4 separate regions of the Homo sapiens genome follow, and regions 1, 2 and 3 are each reported to be linked to region 4. The links are microRNA targets in miRTarBase. Many come from high-throughput screens and were not tested one by one. Region 4 holds a microRNA gene; each other region holds the end of a gene's coding sequence. Distances are between the middles of the regions.
What was found. The annotated mature microRNA hsa-miR-222-3p reads AGCUACAUCUGGCUACUGGGU and lies in region 4 at 1,672-1,692, opposite strand. An mRNA with a match to its seed (bases 2 to 7 or 8) in the 3' UTR can be bound and repressed. Matches are read on the target gene's strand: a 7mer-m8 pairs with bases 2 to 8, a 7mer-A1 pairs with bases 2 to 7 and ends in A, and an 8mer does both.

Region 1 (3,185 bases), not on the chromosome of region 4:
GAGGTTGAGGCTGCGCTGAGCCGAGATCGTTGCTGTGCATTCCAGCCTGGGTGACAGAGCGAGACCCTGTCTCCAAGGAAAAAACAAAGCAAAAAAAAGAAAAAAAAATCTGTATGCTTACCTGACTAGATAGTTTTACATTTAAACATGTAAAAAGAACTGGGATATCGAATTTCTCAGTGGATTTCTTTACTATCATTTCATAACACTGCTAACATATTTTTTTTTTCTCTCTTAACCAGGAAAAGTGGGTTGAAGTTGCCTCAATGAAAGTGCCTAGAGCAGGCATGTGTGTTGTGGCAGTCAATGGTCTTCTGTATGTTTCTGGAGGTCGATCTTCCAGCCATGATTTTTTGGCTCCAGGTACCTTGGACTCAGTTGAAGTTTATAACCCTCATTCAGATACATGGACAGAAATTGGTAACATGATCACCAGTCGTTGTGAAGGGGGCGTTGCTGTGCTATGAAATATAAAGCATAACAGAGCACAAGGAACATTTTGAAAATGCAGGACCTGACCTTTTGCAAAGCAAACATAGATTTGGTGATAAGACCCTCTGATTCTGTGAGTTTTCCATGTATTTGGTAGATAAATGACTAACGAGGCTGGGCGCAGTGGCCTCATGCCTATAATCCCAGCACTTTGGAAGGCTGAGGCAGAAGGATCACTTGAGCCCAGGAATTTGAGGTTGTAGTAAGCTACGATCATGCCACTGCACTCCACTCTGGGCAACAGAATGAGATCCTGTCTCTTAAAGAAAAAAAATAAACTCAAGAATGATTTTTCTAAAAATATGAGTGAGAATGGATATGGAATATATCCCAATTAATAAAGAGCTCACACAGATTTGCCAGGTTTACTAATAATAGAAATGCCATTTATGCTGTAGAATTCTCCAGTTTAAGTGTAGACAACTCCTATTTTACAAATTTGTAGAAATTATTTACTAGAAGCTTCCTGGCAAATAGTCCCTTTAGCTACTTCTCCAGTGCAGTATAAATTGTAACATAAAACTTTATGTGATATAGGAATAGTGTCAATGACACAGTTTAAAGACCTCTATATTCACAATTATATCCAGAGCATAATTTTCCATGGCCATAGTTTGAGCCACAGAGAAAGCCAATGAAATAGATTCCTACTTTTATTTAATGCCAAGAGTTTTCACTAGCCCCAAACTTTTTATTGGCAGCAGATATCCTAGGAGGGGTGTTTGGGAAATATCTAGCTATTTTAATAGATAGATACCTTTTTGCTTGATGATAAGTTTTTGCTTGCTCATATTTTTTGTCTTGATCCTGAGAATGCAAGTAAGGAATTAATAGGAGGTTCTTAGTGACCAGATGTTGTAATGGGCTATACAGTCCAGCAGGCAGTATGCACCTAGAAATTTCTCCCTTTTTTAGGCTGGGCATGGTGGCTCACACCTGTAATCCCAGCACTTTGAGAGGCCGAGGTGAGACGGGAAGATGGCTTGAACTCAGGAGTTCGAGACTAGCCTGGGCAACGTGATGAGACTCCGTCTCTACCAAAAAATATATAAAAATTAGCCGGGCGTTGTGGCTTGTACCTGTGGTCCCATCTGCTTGGGAGGCTGAGGTTGCAGGATCACTTGAGCCCAGGAGGTCAAGGCTGCAGTGAGCCAAGATTGTGCCACTGCACACCGGCCTGGGTGACAGCATGAGAACCTGTCTCAAAAAAAAAAAAAAAAAAAGAAAAAAAAATTCTTCCTTTTTTGCTAGATTGTTGTCACCAAAATTATCTGTTTGGCTTTAGGAAGAGGGAATTTTATTAGATTATCAAGCTTTGTAAAATTTATTTGTACTTGGGCAAACCTAAGTAAGAGCATACTGCAAAGCTACTGCTTGGATGTAGAGGGCTAAATTGTAGGTACTTCTGAAACTTTTTATAGATACTGACTCATAAGTGTAATTTGAAAGTACCCCTTGACCCAAACAAAACTGCTTCTCAAAACTTCTCATTTTCTCCCTGAGAAGCATTCTAAAGAATTGTTCTCTGTTCATTTCTAAGAGAAAGATTTACTGGGTGTATGATGCGGTTACTTTTAAGTTATTTCTACTGGCCAGTTGGAGCAATATATATTAAAGGTCTTGCATACAGTAAAAAAAATTTTTTTTTGAGATGGAATTTTGCTCTTGTTGCCCAGGCTGGAGTGCAAAGGCGTGATCTCGGCTCACTGCAACCTCCGCCTCCCGGATTCAAGCGATTCTCCTGCCTCAGCCTCCCAAGTAGCTGGGATTACAGGCGCCCACCACCATGCCTAGCTAATTTTTCTGTATGGGGTTTCACCATGTTGGCCAGGCTGGTCTCGAACTCCTGACCTCAGGTGATCCACCTGCCTTGGCCTCCTGAAGTGCTGGGATTACAGGCATGGGCCAGCGTGCCCGGCTGCATACAGTAAAATTTAACTAGTTGACTTAAGGATTTGATTTCCCGTTTCTTTTTTTTTTTTTTAGATGGAGTCTTGCCCTGTCACTCAGGCTGGAGTGCAATGGTGTGATCTCAGCTCACTGCAACCTCTGCCTCCCTGGTTCAAACGATTCTCCCGCCTCAGCCTCCCGAGTAACTGGGATTACAGACGTGAGCCACCATGCCTGGCTAATTTTTTGTATCTTTAGTAGAGACGGAGTTTCACCATGTTGGCCAGGCTGGTGTTGAACTCCTGACCTTGTGATCTGCCCACCTTGGCCTCCCAAAGTGCTGGGACTATAGGTGTGAGCCACCGCACTCTGCCGATTTCCCATTTCTTTGCTAAGGTCCTTCAGTATATTACTATAAGCATCATCAACTTATTTAGATAGAAAACTTTTAATTGCATTAATGAATTAGGTAGCACTCATATCCAAATTATTTGGTTTAGGCCGGGCACCGTGGCTTATGCCTGTAATCCTAGCACTTTGGGAGACTGAGGTGGGCAGATCACTTGAGGTCAGGAGTTCAAGACCAGTCTTGCCAACATGGTGAAACCCCGTCTCTACTAAAAATACAAAAAATTGGCAGCAGGTGGTGGTACATGCCTGTAATCCCAGCTGCTGAGGAGGCTGAGGCAGGAGAATCACTTGAATCCAGGAGGTGGAGGTTGTAGTGAGCTGAGATCATACCACTGTGTTCTAGCCTGGGCCATAGAGCAAGACTTTGTCTCAAAAAAAAATAAAACAAAAAA
Region 2 (3,185 bases), 63 Mb from region 4:
TACAAGAGTATTTACAAAGGAAGACAAAGCCAAAGCAACTCAAAGCATATCTGTGAAGCAGAAATAGCAGATGTAATTAGCTGGTGGAACTGTAAAGTTTCAGTTTTTAACGACCAAGTGACTATGCCTGATATCAAATTAAATGTAGAGGTCACACACACAAAAATATTCCATCATTGTTTTTTCTTAGCAGCATGAACTGATAGCTGGAAGGTAAGTGATAAGTTGGTAAACATATTCCACAAAGATTCTTCCAGCACAATACTGAATAAATTAATTGTCTGTAAACTAATAAATAATGAGAACAAGATTGCATTTGTTATGCAGTACCTGTGACTATGTGTACCTGTTACTATTTGTATAATACGTACTACTGTGTATGAGGTTTCTCATTCATTTATTCAGCAACTGTTACATCTGTGCTGTACCCTCTGTACCCTGTCTGCTGGCAGCTTCTGAACCTAATATGCAAATAAAGTGATACAGTATTTTCCCCCAAGTAATCTTTTTTCCCACAATTCTGAACAATTATTACTTAACTTACTTGAAAAAATAAAATGGTGACAGAAGGCTTGAAAAAAAGTTGCCTAAAGAGCGCGTTGTTATAATGAACAAAAGCCACACTGCGTTATTTGATTAGGTTGGAAAAAGAGAAGAGTCTGAAGGAACTGATAAAGTTGATGCCCTAGCAGTGACCAGTAACTGGAACAATGACTGATCTCATAGCCACGTCCTCTCCTCAGCACAATTTACAAGAGGGAAAAAAGAGCCCACCATCCCTTTGGTTGGTAGGCAAGGAAAAATAGAAGTCAACTCGGTTCTTTGGAAAAGTTAGTTTAGCAACACGTACTATAAGCTTGCTTGAAGATAGAAGTACACGTTCAAAGACATTAAAACCAAGTAGTGAAAACCTTTAGATAAATATTACACTACTTCAAAGTTGCACATTAAATGCGAAGCAAATTTCATTTTAACAGAGTTTACACACAACAGGTACATCTACAATCACATGTACACAGGTACACAAAGTGTGCATACACACGAATATGTACACACACACACTAGTGCTCACACACATACAAACACACCCAACTGTGATATGATGAGGTTTGCCAATGATGGTACAGCAAGCCAAGATTTGTGTGCCACCACGGAACAAAGCTCTAAGCAAGCTTCAAGACCTTTGTACCTATTCTCTGTGGTCACCACCTTGCTAGTGTCACGTTCTCAAAGGTCCAGGTACCTAAAATCTTAATTCAGTTTACATCAGAGGCAAGCAAAAATAGAACGGGGGGGAGCTTGCTCTGATTTTTTTTTTTAATTTGGTACATCTTATATTGGCTCAATATCCAGAAGGAAACAAGGCCTTATAAGAGGTTCTTTTTGGCTTAAGTTTTTGTCAGAATATTGATTGATAAGTAAACACTAATTTCTTGAATATGGGAAATTGATCTCTTTATAGTAGCCATGGGCATAAGAGGAAGAGTGTGCATTGGGGAAAATGGAGAAAGAATAAGAAAAAGTAGAATAGAGGTTGAAAGTGGGGAGAGGCCCAGAGAAGCAGGGAGGGGCCTTGGGAAGAGACTTTTGAAGAGCTTTGTTTCTTTTAGGAGGTAAATGTAGGTTTCACAATAAATGAAAAATAATAGGTTTGGAAATACTCAATCGATTTTCAGGCAGAACATCACAGTGTTGTATGTGAACAAATAGCTGTTTCTCAGTTCTGCCTTTAAAATGTTGGAAATGCTCAATCAAGATATTAGTTTCATTGACATATAACATGAGCAGAATGTTGCAGTTTTGCTAATGAGCAAAACTTGAAATAATCTGCCCTTTAGTCCTGCCTTTAAAATACTGGTAATGCCCCATCAAGATATCAGTTCAGTTGACATTTAATTCATTGATCAAGAAATGTTTTGTGTGTGTAATACTCGGAAAAAAGATTCCAGATCATACCTTCCTTCCAATTATGACAGCTGTTTTTTCTTTATGTGCCCTGGTTTAAAGTTTTTCAACTTCAAAATTGAATCTAAATATTTTACATTATTAAAATTGGCATTGACCAAATTTATATGTATTCTAAGTTACTTTTTTTTAAAGAGGGAAAGAGTTATGAGATGCTCACTTGTATAGTATCTGTTTCCTTTCAAAGGGACAGACTGGGGAGGAAAACCAGAAAACAAAAAACAAAGCACAGTGTAAATATTGTTAATTAGAAATCACTGGATCCATAAGCAGCAGTATGAATGATCTGCATGAATAGGATCATTCAATTGCCAGAGTCCACTTGTAGGCTTGTAGAAATTTGGGTTGCTTTCTACTCAGAAGCCTCTGAGTTTTCTTTCCTTTAGGCAGATCTGGAGTAGACGAAGATAAAATTCCATAAGCATCACTTTTCTTCTAAAATGTGTTTTTGTGGCAATATAATCACTCTAGGAAAAAGATAATAAAACAAAAGTTACTTGCAGAATTAATGTGGAGAGCTGTCACCCCCACCCTGTTTTAAAACAAAACAACACAAAACAAAACAAAATCTAACTAGAAGTTTTTGAGAGATATACAGAGGAGACTGCCTGGGCATGGACATGGTTAATCAACTCTGCTGGCTGCCTGTGAGGAATATCAGCTGGGCAAAGACACAAGGGCAGTTATTCTTCTTGCCCCCAGGCTGTCACTGACATTTCTGGTGGACAGCATCTTTGCACGTGCGTGCACTGTTCTACTTTCTTCCAGTGGAGCCCAAGAGTGAGCCAGGCATTGTGCAGAGAAACAGATTTTTTTCTTCTTCTTCTACATGTTTGACTCTGCCTTCACCAGGTTATGTGGCACAAGTCATAGGATTTAAGTACAGCATTGGTGATGGTCTCTAGACTCAATCATTGAATTTCTTCTAATAGAACAAAGTCATACCTGCAAAGGAGACTTGAAATTCCCATCTGTTTAATAAAAGAAAAAAGTTCCAGCATTATTCTCTTGGCTTTCTGCTTTTGAGTGGGTGCATAATGGGGAGTGTGGCAGGGGGTGATCAGATACATAGAAGAAGGTGCTGGACCAGAGAAGGGATAGGAATAAATGATCAGCAAATTGATTATGGGATGCCAGTGTTACCTTAAGATCAGGTCACCACAAAGTACCAAGTATTCTATTTTATTTGAGACATCTTAAAAGAATCCATGGAAAACATC
Region 3 (3,185 bases), not on the chromosome of region 4:
GTTACCATGGATTGTGTATTTATTATAGCAGTGTTTTGGCAAATAACATTGAATGGGGCGGCGGGGCAGTGCCTAATTATTCAGAAGTTCTGTTTGGGCTAGTGGTGTGCTATAGGAACTTGAAACCTTCTTTGATATTAAAATGTCACAAGAAAAATATCTCACTAGAGCAGCTTTAGTTAGCAACAAAACTGAATGCCAGCTACAAAAGATAGCAACAAGCAGTCAACCACCAGGAAATAGTAAAATTGGGTAATGAAGTACCCAAAGTAAAATTAAGAGACTTCTAAAACAATATGGACAGCTAGCATTCATTTAGGTGCCTCATATAACTATTTAAAGAAATAAAATTATCTCCAAACCATTCTTATCACCAGTATAAAGGAGTAAACTTCAAGTATATCACAAAAAGTTTTTTTATACTTTTTTCTTTTTTCCTTAAGTTCATTGTGGTGTCACTAAAAGAAGGTATGTTCAACAATGCAAACGTTCTTTTCAAAACCAAGTTTGTGGATGGTGTTTCTACAGTAGCCAGATTTACTCAATGTCAAAATGGAAAGATTTCAAAGGAAGCAAAATCCAAGGCAAAACCACCCAAAGGAGCACATGTGGAAGTTTAAACTACAAAGTTATTTCTTCATCTTGACCTGTTTTTTTAAATGTAAACTTTTAAGGACTTGAGATAACTAATTTGTTTATATACAAAAATTAATGTTACTGTGTTACTTAACCCATGTTTTCTCTTTATATAATCACTTATCGCTTACAAATGAGCATATATTCCTCATCTCTTAACTAGTCTAATTATGGTCCAATTATTGTGGTTGTGATTTTATGCATATCATCAAATGTTTTTTTCTTATGCGGGTCTTTTATATATTAGGGATCCTGAGATACCCGATTCTATATGTAAAAGCTAATATACAAAAAAGCAGATTAAATTACATGATAAATGTAGCTGATCATCAGTGTTTAATTGATTTAATTCCTAAGGCAATATTAATGTGTTTTCTAAAGTCATTCAGGTAAGGAAGAATTATAAATCAGGTAACTGGACCAACAAAGGGAACACATATAAAGCTATTATGCATGCATGGAGCCGTTTGAGGCTAGTTTTTTAAGGCCACAACTCCAGACCCCTGATTTAGACTGAGATAGGAAACAGATCTTGAAAGAATCCTTATTTTAATGATACATGAATATCATGTTCCTATACGCTTAATAATTGGTCTCTACGTTTTAATGATACATGAATATCATGTTCCTATACGCTTAATAATTGGTCTCTACGACTTTAATGTTTTTGTTTTTTTAAGCTGTGTAAGTATTTTTAAATCAAAGCTTAGGAGGTGTGTTGCGTGGTACTATCTGCTGCAAATTTATCTGAAGTTTGTTAATATTTTCCAAGATTTTTGTCAGCCTTTTCATAATCCAGTCATTAACAACCTATTGGTAAACAAGAATGTAGGTGCCAGTAGACTAAACCAAATTTATTTTTCCCTGAGTCTGATATATATATGTATAAATATAAATAACTCAATCCATCTGTTCCACCAAAATAACTCAAAAGTTGGATGATTATTTGTCTTCCGCTTTCCAGTTCAAAGGGATGAAATTCCTTTAGAACTTGAAAGATGACACTAGCGAACACCATGAGAATACTGTCTACAGTTTTTGGTACGTCATCACTAGAACAGTGACCCCAAACTGAATCATGAAAGGTCTGACATGATGTAATCTGATCTTCCATGTGTTATTTTGGCCCCACATCTCTTCTTGATTTTTTAGTCTTATTTCCTTAGTGTTATTATCATACTTCCCCTGATATATGGCCGTACTTCCTGGCCCTGGGCTTGACATTTCCCACCCTTCATTCTCCATACATATGAGATGTCAGAAAACATGCAGTAATTGATATTATGGGACACATTGGAAAGGATTGAATCTGGAATTAGTTCTGTCCACTGTGGAGGGGAGAGGAAATAATGCTGTAAATGTTGAGTTACAGAAAGTCCAATGTCAAATATAGTTTTTTTGTTTCCTTTCAAATGTATTACAGACTGTGCCAAAACAGTTACCAATTCACACTGTCAATATTAAAGTATACCATAGTATACAAATTAGTCAGTACTTGCTGTTAATTTTAATATTTCTGATTTAACAGTTAGTTATTAAGTGGTACTTCATTGCTGTTTTAGCCAACGTTTTAAAAATAATTTGGGAGTTTGACTATTTTGGCTTACGTACTCATTTCCTTTTCTCTGCTAAAAATGTTTTGCTTGTGTGCGTTCCTGATTTTTGTCTTGTATAATCTTGATCTTTGAAAACCCTCAAACATGTATTAAATTGTTGTAACTTTTTTTCATTAGAGGGAAGACATTAAGGGGATTGGGGACATTTGTTTCACACATCTGCAGTAATATGAGTTAACTAATATTTAACAAGCTCTTTCTTTACATTAGCTGCTGTTCTCATTTGTATGTATTGTCATATTTAATCCTCAGAGTAACCTAGTGAGGTAAATACTGTTGTTGTCAGCATGGTGTAATCGAGGAATTGAGTGAGTTGAGCAGAAAAGTTAGGAAACTTGCTCAGGGTGATAATACAGTTAGGAGTGTCAGGGCCCATGGACAAATCTTGTCAGTCTCCAGAACCTAAGATATACTACGTCACTGACAGCTTGAACATTTGTATTTATTGTACAGAATAAATTTAAGAAAAATACCTGTATGAGCAGTATGTACAACGTGAATGTTACCTTAAAGAAGAACCTCAACCATGTGAAGAGAGGATTCATTGTGGTGGTGGCGGTTTTGGCATTTCAAGTAAGCTCACAGCAAATGCAAAGCAAAGACATGAAATTTTCTCTTCCAATAGGGTGGCATAATCTAAAGGCCAACATTCCCACAGATGATAAATATAGATTCTGAGCAAAATACTAGAAACAACTACCTGAGAGTTCAGGAAACTGAAGAAAAACTAGAAAGATTTTGGATGGGAGATAAAATACGGAGGAAGAGACAGGCACAAGCTAAGGTTAATGTTTTTAACCTAAGTACCAGCTATAGTCATGATGCAGCTGTAGGACAGCTAAGGCTGCAGTGGAAAGCCTGGGGTCTTTCTGGTCTGGAGAACTAAAAGATGGGATCTGGGCTAACCACAGCTTCCAGAAAGTGAAGGAGACG
Region 4 (3,185 bases):
TACTAATTTAAATTACATGATTTCCTACTAAAAATATGCAGTTCATATAAGCAAGGGCAAATAAATCCTCCTTAAAACATTTTATTCCTTTATAATTGAGAACTTAACAGTCTTAATGGCTAGTTCTTAAAAAATGTTTATAGGATTAAGTTTATTTAAGAGAGCAGACAAACAAAACATATTGTAAAACTAGTATTTTCCAGAAGCAATTTCCATTCTCTTCCTTTCTTCCTGCAAACTGGTGTTTTATCTTTACAAGTTCTCTGTCATTCCATAAGAAAGCTGAACAGTGGTTAAAACATCCAGTTTGCTTGAATTCCTGAGTGATTCAGATTCCAGTGAGATTGAGGGTCATTCATAACAGTTACAAGGCTGGTGTGGTAAAGGGAGAACAAAAATAAACTGGGTTTCTGCAGGTAAGTGAGAAGACAAAATGAAGAGGAATAAGGTTGTAAGGCAGTATGATTAGGCTTGTGGGTGCTATGCCTTCTGATAATAATTATGAACAGAAATAGAAGCCAAAAAGTAAACAACATGTAAGTTGTCAATCTTTGACAGTTGAGGCAGGGAGAAGGAAGGAAGGATGACATTACACCTTATCTCTGGTTTACTAGGCTGGTGTGTGAGACCATTTGGGTGAAATCGTATTGAAATCATTCATTGCTGAGGTGATCAGCTTTCTTGCGGTCCTTTCTCTGCACTCTATTCAATGATAAACTCCACTGGTTTATACCTCCTGGAAAACAGTTATTCAGAAACATTATAGGGGTAGCATTGGTGAGACAGCCAATGGAGAACATGTTTCCAGGTAGCCTGAAACCCAGCAGACAATGTAGCTGTTGCCTAACGAACACAGAAATCTACATTGTATGCCAGGTTCATGCCCCAGACCTGGATGTTCAGCTTGCAAGTAATTCTCACATACTATTTCAACACAACTGCCTACTGCATTCAAGATTTCAAAATTGGCATTTGTCTTTTCTACCACAAGGAAAAGAAAACCAACAGTCAGAAATGCTGGGACTTACCTACTACCAACAAAATTTCCTTAAACCATCATATCATCAAGTTGTCATCATTTAATCATGACATCATGTTGAAAATGCCATCTAAAAGTCAAGAGATGAAAAAGCTGGATGGAAGGAAGGTCGGATAGATAAACTGGTAGGTACGTGGGCAGGTGGGTGGATGGATGGATGGATGGGTGGATGGATAAATGGGTGGATGGGTAGGGGTAGATAGGTAGGTAGGTAGATAGATGAATAGATTGATCTATCCAAATGATACCTTTCATAGGGGGGAAAGAGAAAAAAAGAGGTAAAACAAAAACAGGTAAGAGCTAAAACATGGATAAATATCCAGATTCCTCCCCCTTGTAGTATTGAAAGCAAATAGACCTCATCATTCATAAAACCTTGAAGGTTCCCAAGCCCCAGCTGATAATGTTGGACTTAACACCCTAGAACTTGACTCTCTCCTCTCTCTCTGTCTCTCTCTCTCTCTCTCTCTCTCTCTCTTTGTGTGTGTGTGAGTGTGTGTGTGAGTGTGTGTGTGTGTGTGTGTGTGTGTGTGTGTGTGTGTGTGTAATTCAAGGTAAAGTTTTCATTATTAAAGACTGCCCAATAATCTCTCTCAGGACACTGAAGCAGAAGCTAGAAGATGCCATCAGAGACCCAGTAGCCAGATGTAGCTGCTGATTACGAAAGACAGGATCTACACTGGCTACTGAGCCATTGAGGGTACCTACACCTTCCAGCAGCTGGGTGATCCTTTGCCTTCTGGGGAGGGGCTCTGTGGAAGAAAAAAGAAGATATCAGATTTCAATTGCACATTTTCTTTGGATCATGAATTGACATTTTGACAATATTCCCATGTACGTAATTTTAAACAACCTCTGGATTTATTTACTTATCCAACAGATACTGACTGAGTGACATTAAATAAAGTGCCACATATTTTCTTAGGTGCTGGAGATCCAGCAGCAAACAAAAAAAGTGGAAAATCTCTATACTTCTACAGCATACATGATTCCTTGTGACAAAATCTACAATCAATTATTTGGTATGTTTTGCAGTAAAATGGAAATATACACAAGAGAAAAACAAACAAGCAAACAAAAAACCAATCTACCATTTTATTGTGGCTTGGAGCATTTTTGTTGCTTCCTGTCACTTTAACTTGGGTAATCTAGCAATGATGCACATATGTAAAGTAAATTGCAGTTAAAAAATTCTTTCGTGTTACGAACTGAGGATAATACAGTTATTTTACCAAATATCTCAAACACCAAAGAAAATTACAGAAAATGCATATTATAATAAATATTCAAAGCAGGTGCTCACTAGCATGTCAGTTCCAAGCTTTCCTCCCATGATACAATGAAGGTAACAAAATAAGTCACAGGATTGGTGTTCTCTTTGCTATTCATTTATCCACCCCAGAAATACTTACTGAGTACCTTCAATAAGTACCTTTCAGTACCTTACTGAAATACTTCTGCGTGCTTTATTCCAGGCACTGGGAATGCAACACTGAACAAAATCCTTGCACTCACGGAAGTTTAAGTCTAAGATTTAAGGAAAGGGTAGAAAAAGACTGAAAAAAACCTCCATAGATATGGACGGTCATTTCATAGAGTAATGAAACAGTTAAGAGGAATGCTATTTTCGATAAGGTGGCTAGGAAAAGCCTCACTGAGGGCCTGGCATTTGAGTGGATTCCTGAAGTAGGAGGAGAAGAATCATGTACATACCTGGGGTGGGAAAGGACACCACAGGGAGAGGCAAGAGTCAGAACAAAAAGCACTGAAACAGGAAAAAGCCTGGTATCTTGGACAAGGTGTTCTTTTATTAGCACATGACCACATGGCCAATTATTGTTTCCTACTTTTAGGATTATTCTAGAAGGTAAATGACTATGCAACTTTTCTCCAAGTACACGTCTTAGAATCCTTTGCTGTGAATTTAAAATGCTTCAGCTATCACTTAGAAAAGATTTAATAAAGCTACTGTCAATTGGAAACTAGTACCATTTGATCGGACATGCAGCTATACCACAGTATGACACACACATATTTATCACCAAGAGAAAAGTGGCTTTTTAAAAATGTGTTAGCTATAAGAAAAGATAACCAGCTTTCTGGGAGCTCTAAATATATACATATCTAGGGAATGATTTAACTATTT

Region 1: the mRNA of IPP is a reported target of hsa-miR-222-3p. The part of its 3' UTR that is shown has no 7-base or 8-base seed match.
Region 2: the mRNA of IRS4 is a reported target of hsa-miR-222-3p. The part of its 3' UTR that is shown has no 7-base or 8-base seed match.
Region 3: miRTarBase lists SMC2 as a target of hsa-miR-222-3p. Seed matches in the 3' UTR shown: 7mer-m8 at 953-959.

The regions. Positions count from the first base shown.
Region 1 is chr1:45,697,248-45,700,432 of GRCh38, reverse strand. It overlaps IPP (intracisternal A particle-promoted polypeptide), which reads left to right. Exons shown (of 9, transcript NM_005897.3): 9 at 243-1,722. The coding sequence ends at 467. Among named protein-coding and RNA genes, the nearest start is that of TMEM69, 11 kb to the right of the region's middle.
Region 2 is chrX:108,720,092-108,723,276 of GRCh38, forward strand. It overlaps IRS4 (insulin receptor substrate 4), which reads right to left. Exons shown (of 2, transcript NM_001379150.1): 2 at 1-2,432. The coding sequence ends at 2,428. Among named protein-coding and RNA genes, the nearest start is that of IRS4-AS1, 15 kb to the right of the region's middle.
Region 3 is chr9:104,138,696-104,141,880 of GRCh38, forward strand. SMC2 (structural maintenance of chromosomes 2) reads left to right here. Exons shown (of 25, transcript NM_006444.3): 25 at 444-2,724. The coding sequence ends at 620. Among named protein-coding and RNA genes, the nearest start is that of SMC2, 46 kb to the left of the region's middle.
Region 4 is chrX:45,745,365-45,748,549 of GRCh38, forward strand. It overlaps MIR222 (microRNA 222), which reads right to left and starts at 1,760; the gene lies at 1,651-1,760. MIR222HG (miR222/221 cluster host gene) reads right to left here. Exons shown (of 2, transcript NR_170290.1): 2 at 1-3,185. MIR221 (microRNA 221) reads right to left here and starts at 902; the gene lies at 793-902.